Linked DNA regions of Homo sapiens. The gene in region 1 interacts genetically with each later gene. Each region holds a gene or a part of one and is shown on either strand. Other genes may lie near its edges.

What was found. Genes that interact genetically often act in the same process or in processes that back each other up.
Region 2: changes in NF2 (region 1) and BZW1 together harm fitness more than expected from each alone (negative genetic interaction), as found in Homo sapiens cells (one large-scale study listed by BioGRID).

The regions. Positions count from the first base shown.
Region 1 is NC_000022.11:29,610,133-29,613,632, forward strand, and holds part of NF2 (merlin), read left to right. Parts: intron 1-3,500. UniProt on the Homo sapiens protein: Probable regulator of the Hippo/SWH (Sav/Wts/Hpo) signaling pathway, a signaling pathway that plays a pivotal role in tumor suppression by restricting proliferation and promoting apoptosis.
Region 2 is NC_000002.12:200,821,910-200,824,873, forward strand, and holds part of BZW1 (eIF5-mimic protein 2), read left to right. Parts: intron 1-237; coding exon 238-269; 3' UTR 270-2,964. UniProt on the Homo sapiens protein: Translation initiation regulator which represses repeat-associated non-AUG (RAN) initiated translation probably by acting as a competitive inhibitor of eukaryotic translation initiation factor 5 (EIF5) function.

The DNA of each region.
Region 1 (3,500 bases):
CTTGAGACCAACCTGGGCAACATAGAGAGACCCCAACTCTAAAATATACATACTATATCTAAACTCAGCTAGGCGTGGTGGTGTGAGCCTGGAGTCCCAGCTACTCAGGAGGTTAAGGTGTGAGGATCACTTGATCCCAGGAGGTTGAGGAGGCAGTGAGCTATGATTGTGCCACAGTGCTTCAGCCAGGGTGACAGAGTGAGACCCTGTCTCTTAAAAAAAAGAAAAGAGGCTGGGTGCAGTGGCTCATGCCTGTAATCCCAGCACTTTGGGAAGCCAAGGTGGGCAGATCACGAGGTCAGGAGTTCAAGACCAGCCTGTCTAATATGGTGAAACCCCATCTCTACTAAAAATACAAAAATTAGCCGAGCATGGTGGAGTGCGCCTGTAGTCCCAGCTACTCGAGAGGCTGAGGCAGGAGAATCGCTTGAACCCGGGAAGTTGGAGGTTGCAGTGAGCTGAGATTGCGCCACTGCACTCCAGCCTGGGTGACAAAGTGAGACTCCATCTCAAAAAAAAAAAAAAAGAAGAAAGAAAAGCAAAGCAAAGCCCAGGCCTGTACCTACTAGAGGTCCTGATAACTTCACCACTGAATTCTATCAAACATTTCAAGAAAAATTAATACAGTTCTTCACAAAGTCTTCAAAAATGAAAAAGAGGAGAAAATACTTACAAACGAATTTTATGAGACTGGTATTACCCTGTTGCCAAAAACCAGGAAAAGACATTACAAGAAAAGAAAACCATAGACAAATATATCTTACAAATGTGGAAGCAAAAATCCTCAACAAAAATACTAGCAAACTGAATCCAGTAACATATAAAAATAATTATATACCATAAACAAGCAGGATTTATTCCAGGAGTGCAAGGTTGGTTTAACATCCAAAAATGAATTAGTGTAAATAATGTAATGCATTATATCAATAGAATAAAAAACAAAAATCACCTTGTCATCTCAGTAGACACAGAAAAAGCATTTGACAAAATTCAGCATGTTTTTCATGATAAAAACACTAAATAAACTAAGAAGAGAAGAGCAGTTCCTCAACCTGATACACAGCAGTTATGAAAAACCCACAGCTAACTTCATAATAGTGAGACTGAGGCCAGGCACAGTGGCTCACGCCTGTAATCCTAACACTTTAGGAGGCCAAGGTTGGAGGGATCACTTGAGGTCAGGAGTTCAAGAACAGCCTGGCCAACATGGTGAAACCCTGTCTCTACTACAAATACAAAAAAAAATTAGCCAGGTGTGGTGGTGCATACCTATAATTGTAGCTACTTGGGAGGCTGAGGTGGGAGGATTGCTTGAACCTGGGAGGCAGAGGTTGCAGTGAGCTGAGATAGCACTACTGCACACAATAGGCTGGGCGACAGAGCTCAAAACAAACAAACAAACAAACAAAATAGTGAAAGACTGTATGCTTATCCTTAAGATTAGGAAAAAGAGAGATAAGTCTACTTTCACTACTGCTATTCAGCATTGTACTGGAGGTTCTAGCCAGGGCAATTAGGCAAGAAAATGCAATAAAATACATCTATGTTGGAAGGGAACAAGTAAGATCATCTCTGCAGATGACATGATCTTGCATATAGACCCTGAGGAATCCACTACCAAAGTATTGGAACTAATAAATTATTAGTTTAGTAAGGTTATAGGATACAAGATCATTACACAAAACTTAGTTGTAAATGTATCCACTTGGAATGAACAATCTGAAAAGGAAATTAAGAAAATTCCATTTACAATAACCTAAAAAATAAAAATACTTATAACAAAAGAGGTATCTTTTTTTCCATCCTCTGACAGTTTAGTAAAAGAAAGTATAAAACTTATACTCTAAAAGCTGTAAAACATTTTTGGTTTTGTTTTTTAAATTAATTTTTTTTGAAACGGAGTCTCACTCTGTCGTCCAGGCTGGAATGCGGTGGCGCGATCTCGGCTCACTGCAACCTCTGCCTCCCAGGTTAAAGCGATTCTCCTGCCTCAGCCTCCGGAGTAGCTGGAGCTACAGGTGTGCACCACCATGCCTGGCTAATTTTTGTATTTTTAGTATAGAGGGGGTTTCACCATGTTGGCCAGGCTGGTCTCGAACTCCTGACCTCAGGTGATCCACCCGCCTCAGCCTCTGAAAGTCCTGGGATTACAGGCGTGAGCTAGTGCGCCCAGCCTGGCCTTTTAAAATATTTAATTAATTGATTTTTTTTTTTCTCGGACTTGCACTGAAGTGAGAACAAGTGCAGTGGTGCAATCATATCTCAGTGCAGCCTAGACCTTCCAGGCTTAAGTGATCCTCCTATATCAGCCTCCCAAGCAGCTCAGACCACAGGCATGCGCGATCATCCCTAGCTTTTTTTTTTTGTTTGTTTGTTTTTTAATTTCTTGTAGAGACAGAGTCTCCCTGTGTTACCCAGGCTGGTCTTGAACCTGACCTCAAGCAACCTCCCATGTTGGCCCCTCAAAGTGCTGGGATTACAGGTGTGAGCCACCGTGCCTGGCCTGTAAAACATTTTTAAAAGAAAGAAGATATAAATAAATAAATAAATAGAAAATAGCTCTTGTTCATGGATCATAAGACATAACGTTGTCAAATTGGCAGTATTTTGGAAATTGATCTACACGTTTGACATAATCCCTGTCAGAATCCCAGTTTATTTCATTGTAGAAATTGACAAGTCTCCAGGCGTAGTGGCTCATGCCTGTAATCCCAGCACTTTGGGAGGCCGAGGCAGGCGGATCACCTGAGGTCAGGAGTTCAAGACCAGCCTGGCCAACATGGAGAAACCCTGTCTCTACTAAAACTACAAAATTAGCCGGGTGTGGTGGCACATACCTGTAATCCCAGGTACTCGGGAGGCTGAGGCAGGGAATCGCTTGAACCTGGGAGGCGGAGCTTGCGGTGAGCTGAGATCACGCGCCACTGCACTCCAGCTTGGGCAACAAGAGCGAAACTCCATCTCAAAAAAAAAAAAGAAATTGACAAGTCAATTCATAAATTCCTATGGAATCGCAAGGGACCCACAATAGCTAAATCTTGAAAAAGAACAAAGCAGAAAGACTCACGCTTTGTGATTTCAAGACATACTATAAAACAACTAATCAAGACAACGTCACCAGGCACCGTGGCTTATGCCTATAATCCCAACACTTTGGGAGGCCAAGGCAGGCAGATCACTTGAGGACAGGAGTTCGAGACCAGCCTGGGCAACATGGCGAAATCTTGTCTCTACCAAAAATACAAAAATTAACCGGGCGTGGGGGTGCACACTTGTAGTCCAAGCTGCTTGGGAGGGCTGAGGCACAAGAATCCCTTGAACCCAGGAGGTGGAGGTTGCAGTGAGTCGAGATCGTGCTATTGCACTCCAGCCTGGGGGACAGAGCGAGATTCCATTTCAAAAAAATAAAAATAAAAAGACAGTGTGGTACTGGTATAAGGATAAATGTGTAGATCAGTGGCATAGAATTGAGAGTCCAGAAATAAACCCAGTGGAATAGA
Region 2 (2,964 bases), on another chromosome or scaffold:
AAATAAAAAATTAGCCAGTTTTGGTGGTGGGCGCCTGTAGTTCCAGCTACTTGGGAAACTGAAGTGGGAGGATCACTTGAACCCGGGAGGCAGAGGTTGCAGTGAGCCAAGAGGGTGCTGCTGCATTCCGGCCTGTGGGACAGAGGGAGACTCTGTCTTAAAGAAGCTTCAAAGTTATAAATGGGAACTTTTGCCTTCTGATACATAATGTTTGACTGTTTTTTTCCCCTTTTCTAGAATCTGAATCTGAAGCTGAAGAAGGTGACTGAATTTTGAAACTACACCCTCAGTAAAGCAAACAGGAGTTGTAGATAAAATGTCATGTCTCATGTGTCCTGGTTCTTACATCTTCCTACCTCCCTGTATCAAGCATGATATAAGGGCTTTCATGGCAAATTTTATTTTAACTGTTTCTATGGTTGCTGGAAATGTTGGGTTTAGTTTCTAAAACCATGTTTTAAGTAGCTACAGGAGCTATAGATTTGAATCTAATGTTGCATTAGTCTTTTCAGTTATCTTCTACCTCCTGTATTTTCTACTGTAATAATGTAATTTAAGGCCTTCCACAATGAACAGTTCACTTTATTCCCTGGGTTTTCTATAAACAGTTTTAAGGATATGATTTGGTTAAAAAATAATTTGTTATAAAAATTCTGTTTGCAAATTAAACTGGAAAAGTATCCAGAGTCTCAAAAGGCAATGATTTGTGAGATAATATGGCATGCCCGGAGCCCTGCTCATCAATGAAAAACCCATATGTAATAATCGAATTCATTTAACATGAATCTTGAGTACGTGGACCATTGCTTGCATGTTAACTTTTTGTTTTGTTTTGTTTTGTTTTGTTTTGCATTTTTAACTCCAGATATCCTAAAGCTCAATTGTTTGGTCTCTGGTTTTCATCCTTAGAGAAGCCATGGAGAACAGACTTGAAAAGTTTAGGAAATCATAATGTGGCAGAGGTGGTGGGAAGAAGAAAGTTGAGCTTTTTCCCCTTGAGAAACTTCTGCATTTAGTTTCTATCTTTCCAGGCAAAACAAATGGGTATTCTTTTCATACAACCATTTTCAAATGAACCTTAGAAAAGTCTTAACATTTAAGGTATTTTATGCACAGAATACACTTAGATTGATAGGAAAGAACTCGTAATGGAGTTTGAGTAAAGAAAATGACTGATGTACTAAACCCAGTAAAAATTGTTGAAAATGTTAAAGGTCAGCATGTTCTAATTGGGAATCTAGATATAGCTTAGATTTCCTATTGGCTTAGAGTATTTGCTATAACAAATGAAGTGCAATGACAATTATATATTCCTACTCGGTCATACTGGACTGGCTTCGTTCTCTTAATATACTCAGTAATGACTCAAGCCTCTGGCTATTAACATACCCTAGTTGCCGTTTTTTAATTGCCATGAGCCAAATACTTCTTGGTATACAATTGATCCATTTATTTTAATGGCTGCCTTTTCATTTTCATCTTTTCTTGCTGCTACCCATCTATGTATGTAGTCATTGGGGGGAAAATGTAGCCACATTTTTTATGGGAAGACTTTGTGTTAAAAGTGAACATTTTGAAGGTTTTTAACTGGTGAAACTAGCCTGGAATAATGCCACCAGAGACTGAGTGGAAATCGCCCCTTTTGAAGGTGCCATTCTTATGAGCCAAAAGTTTGTCATTTAAAAGTTCATTTTGAGGGAATAACATGTAATATAATTTGAAATAAAGGTATAGTAACCTTAAAAAGAACATTATAACTGATTGTTGTGAATGGGGTGAATTTGTTAAAATGAGTAACTTTGATAAAGTTTTTCATGCACAGGCAAAATGTATTCACTAGATTTCTACGTAGTGATCTGCTTTTACTTTGTAATTTGTAGTTCTCAAAAGACTTTTTTTTAAAAAAATAAAGTCCATACTTACACTTAGGCTTTATACATCAGTCTTTTTTTTTTTAAATTCCATGTTAATACCTAGTGGTATTGTATGTTGTGTGTTCAGATGTCTTTACTGTATCTGTATACCATTAAGTAATAATTAGACTCCCAAACTGTAAACCACCTACACAGAATTCTGGTGTAGCTAAAACTACATTAATATTTCTACAACCAATTCATTGCATGTTTCTTCCATACAAAGTGTGCCATTTTATACTGTGTATAGTGAAAAAGTGTGTCATCTTCCAGAACTACATTATTATCTTTGATCGTAGTTTGTTTCTTCATAATGACACTGTAGTGTTTACTTAGTAGAACATTATAGTAAGTGGATATCACTTGTGACAGTAATAGTGTAAAGAAAGGGAATGCTTTATAAAAAGATTGCAGATTCCATTCCATATAAAAAGATTCCATTCTGAATCTTAAGTGGTAATTTTAGAATTCAGGTGCCAGTGCCAGCCTATGGCCTCAAGTATGTAATTCTTAATATAGATGTTAAATTGTACTTTTAATTATGATTGGATAAATGTTTTTTCTAACTGTCAGTTTCTAAGGCTGTCTCCTTAGAAACTAAATGAGTTTTTAGAGCTGGTTGTAAGTTTCTTAGCCTTACTCTGTGAGTTATAGATGTTATTTCATTCTATATATAGATGTTTATTCCATTCTTATTTAAAAAAAAAAACCTCCATATACCAAAAATGCTACAGGATATTTTGAAATAGCATATTTTAGTTAGGGGAAATGCATGTGACCAAGAGGTTGGACTTCTAATTCAGTTTTTCAAAAGCTTTTTTCCATTATCATACCCCCAGCCTTTTTAGGCTTTTTTTTTTTTTTTTTTGAGACGGAGTCTCGCTCTGTCACCAGGCTGGAGTGCAGTGGCGCGATCTTGGCTCACTGCAAGTTCCGCCTCCCGGGTTCACGCCATTCTCCTGCCTCAGCCTCCCGAGTAGCTGGGACTACAGGCGCCCGCCACCATGCCCGACTAATTTTTTTGTATTTTTAGTAGAGACGAGGTTTCACC